Regions from separate parts of the Homo sapiens genome. Here region 1 is linked to region 2. The links come from fine-mapping of genetic effects on gene expression. A gene starts in region 2. The other region holds a variant in brackets. All regions are shown on one strand. Distances are from middle to middle. Region 1 overlaps COPS7B (COP9 signalosome subunit 7B). Region 2 holds the start of NMUR1 (neuromedin U receptor 1).

Region 1 (5,372 bases), 270 kb before region 2:
GATTTCTTTTTCTCAAACTTAAATCCTTACCGCCACCTGCTGGCAGCACCAGGCTCTGCTCGTGCACACACCCACCCTCTGTGTTTAAATAACCAAAATTTAAAGAGTCTACACTGTTGTGTAACTACACGGTGTGCCTCAAACTTTAGCCAAGTGTCTACAATAGCTCTGTGCACACCCGCCTTTCTTTTGTCTGATGCTATTTATAATGAAAATAAACTTGAACAGTTCAAAATTCTAAAACAAGTATCATTCATCTTTGTTAATGACCTTGATACCAAAGATTAGGTAGTGTGGTTAGCCTCCCAACCTCATTTTGTACAGAGTTTGATTTATAGGGAAGAATAAACAGAAAGGAGAAAGCGGTTAGCCCTTCCTACTTTGTTCAGACCTCAATCCCAAGTCAGAGAAAAGGCCACCATCATCAAGAGGGTTGTTGCACAGCTTATTAGAAAAGCAGCAAGCTTATTTTCCTAATTGTCTTTGCTTTGGACTAATGTTAAATATAGTTAACACTTCCTTGCCCAGGCTGGTCTCGAACTCCTGGACTCACGCAATACTTCCTCCTCGGTCTCTCAAAGTGTTGGGATTACAGGTGTGAACCACTGCACCCAGCCTCATACTTCCTTGGCTAGTCGGATTAAACATGGTCTATGAATTGAACATCCACAGAGTATATGTATATAGGGTGGTGTGTGTGTGTATTCAAAAAAATTAGCTCAAGTTCATGAAAAGCAGAGTTCAGCAGTCCACTGACACACTTTTATGGTGTGCCAGAAATATTCAGTTCAACATTTGAGTACCTACTATGGGTTAGGCATGAGACAAGACGCTCGTCTTACAAATAGGACACAGGTTTTATTTTCAAGGAGTGCATATAACAGTATAGAGAATCACTCCAAATTTCACAAATCCCCCTTTGAAAGGCACCATCTACTCATCTCTTATGCTTCTTAGCTGGAATTACGGGTCCCACTCCGCCACTCTTAGACACCTGATTTTCAAAATTCATTAAGCATCATTAATACTTCAAACTCCATTCACACTAGAAAAGAACTTCCAATGCTAAGGAAAATCAGTGCAGGGCTCCAAATAAATTGTGAAGTGAGGTCACTTCATGTGTCAGGTTACAGGTACACAAATGCCCATAACGCAAAGGCTGGGGCCTACATCTGTCCAAGAAGCTAAAAGTTTCCTCAACAACCAGGTGTCACTAAAACCACACTTACATCCTCTTTACTTCACTTGCAGCTCATCTGCCAAATTTTATCCCTTTCTTCTTTCCGTATGAAACATGTCATGCATTTTACACATTTATAATATATATGTACAGTTCACAGAGAAAGAATAAAATGAAACTATGTGCCCACCACGCAACTTAAGAAGCAGAACACTCCCAGGGCCTTGAAGCCCCACATGCCCCTGCCCAGCTGTACCCCTCCCTCCACTCCACCTGGTAACTTACCACCATCCTTCTATCCATTTTTAAGATCCATCCCCAAACTCATTTTCTTTTGCTCTATAGCTGCAAAGTACATGTGTACTGAAACTACAACATTCTCTGTTCTCCAAGCCTGATTGATCACCCTATGCTGACCAGGAATCAGAAAAAAGAGACAGAACACCAAGAGCAGGAGCCGTGTCACACTCATCCCTGTAACCCAGCACCTAGCCCAGGCCCACTTGTTGGTGACTGCTTGTTTCATCTACACCAAGATTCGCAAAACAAAAACATAAACACTGCAAACGAATAAACAGGTATGCCTGGAGAGAGAAACAAATGTTCCTTTCCTTCCTTACCTCTGCTTCTACCTGCTGCTGAGTTCGGTTGTGGTTCTCTTTGTACTGGTTGGCTCTCAGAACTTGCTGCTCGATGCCCAGTAGAACTGCTTCACAGCCATCACACCTACAATGGAGAAAACCAGCCCTGAGCTGCAGAATGGCCTGGGAAGTCTCTTCCAGGCTCAGAAATATTCTTCCCCAACAGCTCTCCCCAGTATCTTACAGGGACCTCCTTTAATACTCCCTCTGCCACATCTCTTGCCCGTTCACTCCTTCCCAAAGACAAGCACTTCTAAATACATAATGCAGGACATTAGGAGACAAATATGGTAGTCTGGGGCTAGTTTCTTAGAATACAGCTTTAATTTTCAACTTTGTATCTCATGGAAGATGGTTTTGTAGCACATACGATTAAAGAAGGTAGGACAGGCCGGGTGCAGTGGCTCCCACCTGTAATCCCAGCTCTTTGAGAGGCCGAGGTGGGTGGATCACCAGGTCAGGAGTTCGAGACCAGCCTGGCCAACACAGTGAAACCCCATCTCTACTAAAAATACAAAAATTAGCCAGGTGTGGTGGCGGGTGCCTGTAATCCCAGCTACTTGGGAGGCTGAGGCAGGAGAATCACTTGAACCCGGGAGGCGGAGGTTGCAGTGAGCTGAGACCACGCAATTGCACTCCAGCCTGGGTGACAGAGCGAAACTCTGCCGCAAAAAAAAAAAAAAAAAAAAGAAGGTAGAATAGATTTTATAGATGGCACTGAGTAATCCTTTTCTCAACAGAAAAAAAAGATGTTCTAGGCCAGGCGCAGTGGCTCATGCCTGTAATCCCAGCACCTTGGGAGGCCGAGGCAGGCGGATCACCTGAGGTCGGGAATTCGAGACCAGCCTGACCAACATGGAGAAACCCCGTCTCTACTACAAATACAAAATTAGCCAGGCCTGGTGGCACACGCCTGTAATCCCAGCTACTAGGGAGGCTGAGGCAGGAGAATCGCTTGAACCTGGGAGGCAGAGGTTGCGGTGAGCTGAGATCGC[A/G]CTATTGCACTCCAGCCTGGGCAACAAGAGCAAAACTGTCTCAAAAAACAACAAACAAAAAAAGATTTCCTAAAAGCATCCTGTTTTGAAGATTCCGCCTTTTCTCAGAAGTTTAAGTTACTTCCTAATTGCCATACCCCTCCTCCTATTTTCCCCACTATTAATTTTTTTAAAAATGAAAAAGTTGAAAGACTACAATGAATATCCCCATACCCTCCACTTAAGATCCAACAGTGTGAGCATTTTGCCATATATGTGGTAGCCCTCAGCCTATGAATTTTGTTTCAATCTACCTCCAGTGCCTAAACATGAGTTGTAAGAGTTTCTACTAGTAAACATCCCATGGTAACCAGTTAGTCTGGCACCTCTATGTCAAACATATTGGGGGCTTAAAAACAGGAAACCAGACTATGGACATAAAAAGCTGTGTCAGCCATCTCAAAAACAGAATAGGACAGCCAACTTTGGCAGGTTCAGAAACTAGATTTTGTGTGCCAGACCATTTTTGTGTTGGGGTATTTCTAAGTTTATTTCTTATTTATTCTAAGTTTTGTAAGCTATTGAAAACTTCCACTTGTGGCAGATGTTGTATAGAGAAGGTGTTTGGGGCTATATTTGGGACAGAACTTGGGGTGAGGGGTGAGCAACACATGTCCTGGGGTGTAAAAGTAGCTGAAGTGAGGGAAACTCAGGGGACATCAGGCCCCAAGGAGTCAAAGTGGCACTGCTCCTCTCTGGATATGCTTCTCTCGGGGATGAGCAGAGATTCTCTCTCCCTCCCGAACCTGTGTACAAAGCTCACCGGGTCTGCTTCATGGCTTCCAACATGCCACGTGCCTGCCTGGGAACACACTCTCCTCACCTCCAGGTATACTCTAACCCTGGCCTTCCTTCAAAACTGAGCTAAAACTTCTCCAATCAGTCCATCTGGCTTTATAAGCCCCAAATAATTTAAATCACTCCACAGTGAATCCTCGTAGAATGTGAGACAGCTCTTACAAATATCAAATTCCATTAAAACAGAGAAAACACAAATGTCCCAATGCTTTTTATATACCAGAGTATAGTTATCAGATATTCTTTGTATGAGTCTGTATTCCAAGTTAAAATGACCCACTCCTTGTCTTCCATGTCCCTCACGGTGTTTTACAAACATTAGCCCAATATGTTACTGATTTTGAACGTAAGTTCTTTTATCCGAAGAATCTTATAAACATGTTAACTTCAACAGGGATAGAAAAAATAATAAAAACAAAGAAAGAATCTTACAAACACTAGCCTTCCTGAGTTTGGTCAAACTTTGAGCGTGAGTTTGGAAAGGGCAGGACTAGCCTCACACAGCTAGGACACATAGGCTCCACCTGCTAACCCTGGGCATTTTATAGCCCACTTTTAAATAGCTCCCAGTTGCATTTAAGGAAAGAACTATTTTACAACCAAGGCACCAGGAGGCCTGAAATGACTCCTGTTATCACACAGCTGTGATCACAAATGTAGCTCCACTCTCCGGCTCACTAAGCCCCAGCTCCCAGGTAGCTACAGGCCCACCCCAAACCCTCAGCTGACACCAGGGAATCACATTTTTGCAAGGAGAGGCACAAAAGACATGCTAGATATCCCCCTCCTCCTTTTAGCCTCACCATTCATGCAGGGTCTTGACAATATTATTGATATCCTTCTTTCGGATGTCACGGCCAATGCAGAAATCCACTTCCAGCAGCTGGTTTCGCTGGTCCAGCTTGCCCTGGATGATGTCAGTGTAGACAGCCTCAATGATAAGGTCTTCTAGTTCCCGGAGATTCCGCATCTCCAGGTCTTTCAGCAACACGGAGTAGGGGATACACTGTAGATAAGGCCATGTGATCATTATAAAAACCATCTGGCAAGCATTAGCGAAAATGCAGGTATTACTCCCATAGCCAACAGCTGCCTCTAGGCTCGGGAAACGCAGGCTAGTGGTAATTATTAATAGCTAGGGCAACAAGAGGTGGATAAATGAACCATGAGACCTAGAAGACCCAACATCTAAGAAAGCAACCTCCTGGTTCTCTGCCTCCTTGGCTTCACCCAGCCTTCAGATTTCACATGCTGCAGCATACTTGTAGAGATCCTAAAAACTTGTACCAGTGGAGAGAAAGGGAACTACTGAGTATATGCCACTCTGCCACCTTCTGGAAGCTTTCAGACTTTGCTAGATCACCATAAATCTCCAACAGATCCCAGTCACTGGAAAGAGCTGGCTACTTGCCCAGCAGAGTGCAAAAACAAACAAAAAAAACTTGCAGGCCAGCATATCTACCTATAGGTGGCCAATGGGTACTGCCAGCTCAGATGTCACCCTGAAGTTTGTATCTGTTTTCTCAGACACAACCAATATGAATTCCCCAACAATAGTTCTTTATTGGGCTGTACCAACATTCTTTACTACACTTGAGAAGTCCACAATCAGTACAAGAAAAAAGGTCAGGTCCTCATTTCACAACAAAATAGGCCTCCCACCTGAAATGCTAGGCTGAGAATCAGAAATGTGCCATTAGATCAGATAAAATGATTTCA
Region 2 (5,372 bases):
TGCATTTGCTGTTGTGCAGAGTTGGGTCCTTGGCCCCCTCATCTGGGCAGACGCCCACCAGCCAAGCTTAGATGGATGTGTACACCCAGAAAACTGGGGGGTGCCACCTCAGGACGGAGCAGGAGCAGCAGGATGTCATACGTTTCTGATGGGACACTACCGTGGTGGCCTTGAGCTCAGGCCCGGAGGCCAGGGCCCCTAGGGCCCTCTGCACAGTGCGGAAGTGAGGGCCACAGCCATTGTGGCCACTGAGCCTCTCCTTTTTGGGGGCTGCTCTTTAGCCTTTGATGGCTGCTAATGTTATGTGAATGATGCAACCCGCTGTAGGAATTCCTGACTGGCAAGAGTCATTCTGCCTCTGCAAGGCTAGGTGGGTCCTTCCCCATCCCCTCCAGGGCTGTGTGAACCAAAGGGTCCACGGGGACTTTCGGACTGCTCAGAGTCTGTGCAGAGTGGTATGTGTGTGCGCGTGTGTGTGGTGTGGTATGTGCAGAGTGATGTGTGCATGCATGTGTGTGTATGTGTGTGTACATGCATGTGCGTGTGTGTGTGTGTTCCAGTGAAGGGCTGGGGTCCAAATGCTCCTCACTTGCTAAGAGCAGCCTGTGATGCCACAGTGGTCTCTGATGCTGAGTGATGTCATCCCTCCTTGCCCGTCTGTTGTGCTGGCAGCCCTGTTACTGAGGATTTCTCCTGGACTAGCTCATCAGGGGCTGAGTAGTTAATTCCCAGGGCACCACAGAATCCTTTCTCCCAAGGCCCTGAGGACCACGTGCCCCTGCACTTCCCACAACCGTCCCCTGCCTGGGACTCTGTTTACATGTGGAGTTCCTGGGAAGGCCGGCCTGGTGCAGGCTCCTTGAGGGCCTAACTCCCATCCCCAAGCCCAGACAGTGACTTATGGAATTGGGGGGCAGTGGGGAGGAGGAGGGTGCAGGAAAGCGGGGGGAAGGAGGAGCCTCCAGTTGCCACTAAATGGTGACAATCCCACCCCACATTTCTTGAGTGTTGGCCATGTGCCAGCCCCTGTGCTGAATCTTGACGCTCAGTGTCTCATGTCACCTTCACAATAGTGGCGATGGTGGTTAGCCCATTCTACAGGAAGGGGAACTGAGGCACACAGAGCTTCTGAGCTCACGGTGGCCTCTCGGGGTCCTGTGGCTTTGTAACCTCTCCTGGTGCTCCTCAGTGTGATTCTGGGGCATGGGGCTCTCCAGAGGGCGTTTGTCAAACATGAGGATTTCTGGGCCTTGCCCAGGCTAAGGAGACAAAACTCTGGGCAAAGGCCCCGGAACCAGCATTTTACTCTGTGTGATCCGTCATTTCTAGGGTCCCTAGAAGTTTCTGATGAAACAGCTTCCAGCTAAGGAGCTGATTGCAGGACTAGGGAGTGGGAGCAGGTGAGGCACTGGGATTTGCATGTGGGCAGTGTGGGGGAGCAGGAGGCTGTGGCTGGGCATTCTTAACCCTTCCCTAAATTCCCTCCATCCTTGTCTATACCCCCACCCTTGGTACAGTGATGGGGGCAGAAGAACATTTGAACGGATAAGGGGGACAGTATTTGGGGCTGAGGACAATGGTGAGGAGAGGGTGGCCCAGGGAGGCAGGTGAGGAGTGGGGAGGTCCACCCCCAGGCTAGACTTTGGTGTGCTCTTTTTCAGAAGGCAGTGGGGGGGCCCCAAGGAAGGGTTTCGAGGGGGTGATGGTCGTTGGTGGCTGTGGGAGGATGGACTGGAGGGAGAATAGGGGGCTCTTGCCCAGTCCTGCAGGGCCGAGCGCCTGGACTCAGGGACTGGAGGCCCCGAAGGGAGCAGCGGGTGAGAGGGGCTGCGGAGGCTGCAATCATGGGCCTTGGGACAGAAGAAGAGGCCTGGAGCCTGGGAGGATGAACCGCACCGGGGCATGTCGACTTCAAGGGGCTGGTGGGCCGTCCCTGTCCTTGGAGGTGGGTCTGAATGGGGGGCAGGAGGAGCTGGAGGCCGCAGGGACACCGTGACGGCGTTAAGCTAAACTCAGCACGCTGGAGGGCGGGAATCACATGTGAGCCCCAGGTCTCTCGGGCTCCTCCTCTGCGGCTCTCTGAGGCTCAGTTTTCTCATCTGTAAAACGGGTTGTTGTGAGGGTTCCGTCAGATAACGCTGCTTGTGGAGGTGTCGCCTCCACGCTGCTTGTGGAGGTGTCGCCTCCAACGGCCGCGTCCTCCGCCAGTGCGGGAGGGGGCGCCGCCCGGGCTGCGGGGACTGCACTGCCCCCTGGCGGCGTTCCCGGCCGGACAGGCGGGGCGTCGGGGCGCGGGCTGGGGCCGCTGTCAGTCAGTCCACTGGCTCCCGCGCCGCGTCTGTGTCCGTCGCTCGGAGGGTGGAAGCCGGGGTCTCGCGGGCCGCGGGCCGCATGGTAGGTGCGCAGGCGCCGGCGTGGGCTAGGGCGCGGCAGCTGGGCCGGGGCTCGGTGCGGGCAGGGTCGTCCTAGGGCGGGAAGGGTCCGAGGGCTCCGTCGGGGTGCCCCCCGTCCCCGCCACCGGGGAGCCTCGCAACTTCTCGGGTCATTTGTGTCTTCCGGCCAGGGGCGCCGGGGGGCTGCGGGCTTGCGACCCTTCCTCGAGGACCAGGGCGCCTCCCTTGAACCCGGGCTGGCGCCTGCGCGTTCCCAACTGGTTCCCGAGGCTCCCGCGCTGCTGTGCAGCGGGGGTGAGGGCGGGCGGGAGGAAGGGTGTGGGGCTCAATAGAGGAGAGGGAACCCCAGAACTGGCAGTGCCAAGGGCGTCAAATATGGAGACTGAACAGTTCAGGTGACAGAAAACAGAAAAAAGAATCAACTTGTGGATGAAGCATTTGTAGTGTGTAGCCTTGACACTCCCTCACTTGACTCTCATAGTGACTGGGTCCCCAGAGCAAGGGGGTGATCCCCGTGCCCTTCCGTATGCCAGGCAGGCCCTGTGTTAATGTCTTTAATGGATTAAACTCCCTGGATCCTCCTAATAGGGAAACAGCCTCAGAGAGGTTACCTCGCTAAAGGTCACACAGCCTGGAACTGGGGAGGCTGGATTCGAATCCAGGCAGTTGCTTCCTGAGCGCTTGCTCTTGAAGACCCTGCAATACCAGGCATTGTGCCCATTTTACAGATGCCCAAACGAGTGCCTCATCTAGCATCATTGCTTGAAAGAGGAGACACCCAAGATCTGTCATTTACTCAAAGGTTCCAATAGATCATGAAATTTAAAATCAAAACCCCACGTGTTTTTTTTTTTTTAAATGTAGATTTTTACTTTTTCGTTGTTTGCTTTTTGTTTTTTTGAGACAAGGTCTTTCTCTGTTGCCCAGGCTGGAGTCCGGTGGCACAATCTCCGCTCACTGCAACCTCTGTCTCCTGGGTTCAAACAATTCTCCCGCCTCAGCCTCCCAAGTAGCTGGAATTACAGGCGTGTGCTACCACGCCCGGCTACTTTTTGTATTGTTAGTAGAGACGGGGTTTCACCATATTGGCCAGGCTGGTCTTGAACTCCTGATCTCAAGTGATCCGCCTGCCTCGACCAAAGTGTTGGGATTACAGGTGTGAGCCACTGCACCAAGCTTATTTTTACATCTCTGACTTGTGGATGGAAGAGTTTTTTCTTTCTCAGTGGTGCCTAAAATAATGGTCATCATAGCGCTAATGTCACCTTTGGCTTGATGAGTGAGGACAGAGCCAGCATTCCCTGAATGATCTTTCTGGGCATCTCTCCCCTCTGTTCCACAGACTCCTCTCTGCCTCAATTGCTCTGTCCTCCCTGGAGACCTGTACCCAGGGGGTGCAAGGAACCCCATGGCTTGCAATGGCAGTGCGGCCAGGGGGCACTTTGACCCTGAGGACTTGAACCTGACTGACGAGGCACTGAGACTCAAGTACCTGGGGCCCCAGCAGACAGAGCTGTTCATGCCCATCTGTGCCACATACCTGCTGATCTTCGTGGTGGGCGCTGTGGGCAATGGGCTGACCTGTCTGGTCATCCTGCGCCACAAGGCCATGCGCACGCCTACCAACTACTACCTCTTCAGCCTGGCCGTGTCGGACCTGCTGGTGCTGCTGGTGGGCCTGCCCCTGGAGCTCTATGAGATGTGGCACAACTACCCCTTCCTGCTGGGCGTTGGTGGCTGCTATTTCCGCACGCTACTGTTTGAGATGGTCTGCCTGGCCTCAGTGCTCAACGTCACTGCCCTGAGCGTGGAACGCTATGTGGCCGTGGTGCACCCACTCCAGGCCAGGTCCATGGTGACGCGGGCCCATGTGCGCCGAGTGCTTGGGGCCGTCTGGGGTCTTGCCATGCTCTGCTCCCTGCCCAACACCAGCCTGCACGGCATCCGGCAGCTGCACGTGCCCTGCCGGGGCCCAGTGCCAGACTCAGCTGTTTGCATGCTGGTCCGCCCACGGGCCCTCTACAACATGGTAGTGCAGACCACCGCGCTGCTCTTCTTCTGCCTGCCCATGGCCATCATGAGCGTGCTCTACCTGCTCATTGGGCTGCGACTGCGGCGGGAGAGGCTGCTGCTCATGCAGGAGGCCAAGGGCAGGGGCTCTGCAGCAGCCAGGTCCAGATACACCTGCAGGCTCCAGCAGCACGATCGGGGCCGGAGACAAGTGACCAAGATGCTGTGTAAGTGTCACGGCTGGGAAGAGGGGCTGAGCCAGGCACTGGGTATGAGTTTGGGGCTCCTGGGGCCTGGGAGAAGGGGCTGAGTATCTGGGTTTATGGGGGACGAGGAACTCCTCTAGTCTCGTGTGTGTGTGTGTGTGTGTGTGTGTCTGAGTTGCACTCCTGTGTACTCTTTTAGATTACCCTACTAGAATCTTACACCAAAAATACCTGTTAATGGCTAACGGTAAGATTGTGTAATTTGTGGAGTCCAGTGCAACATGAAAATTCAGGGTCCCTTTTTCAAAAATGAATAAGAATGTCAAGACAGCAACAACAGAGCATTAAACCAAGCCCAGGACCCTGCTAAACTTGGGGCCCTGGCTCTGGAACCAAAACACAGAAAGGGCAGGGCATGTGGTTGGGCTCCAGGATGACAGAAAATGGGATCTGGACCCTCCAGGTCTCAGGTCTCTCCTCTTCTTTTTTTTTTTTTTTTTTTTTTTGAGACAGGGTCTTGCTCTGTCACTCAGGCTGTGGTGTGACCACGGCTCACTGCAGCCTCAACCTCCCAGGCTCAAGCGATCCTCCTACCTCACTCAGCCTCCTAAGTAGCTGGGGCTACAGGCAGGTGCCACCATGCCCAGCTAATTTTTTCATTTTTGTAGAGACGGGGTCTCACTATGTTGCCAGAGCGGATCTTGAACTCCTGGTCTCAAGTGATCCTCCCACCTCAGCCTCCCAAAGTGCTGGGATTACAGGC

The links. PIP is the estimated chance that this variant, and not a neighbour inherited with it, causes the effect.
Region 1: its variant is the best candidate, but not a certain one, in a credible set for the expression of NMUR1 in whole blood (TOPMed, PIP 0.59).

Annotation. Positions count from the first base shown.
Region 1 is chr2:231,795,393-231,800,764 of GRCh38, reverse strand. It overlaps COPS7B (COP9 signalosome subunit 7B), which reads right to left. Exons shown (of 7, transcript NM_022730.4): 5 at 4,457-4,659; 6 at 1,801-1,906. Among named protein-coding and RNA genes, the nearest start is that of COPS7B, 12 kb to the right of the region's middle. The variant A/G (reference allele first, on the strand shown) is at 2,817.
Region 2 is chr2:231,527,381-231,532,752 of GRCh38, reverse strand. NMUR1 (neuromedin U receptor 1) reads left to right here and starts at 2,308. Exons shown (of 3, transcript NM_006056.5): 1 at 2,308-2,394; 2 at 3,736-4,630. The coding sequence starts at 2,392. It overlaps LOC105376787 (a long non-coding RNA gene), which reads right to left and starts at 583. Exons shown (of 4, transcript XR_001739928.2): 1 at 1-583. RefSeq lists enhancers at 622-1,356, 3,846-4,372, 4,373-4,900 and a silencer at 2,051-2,480.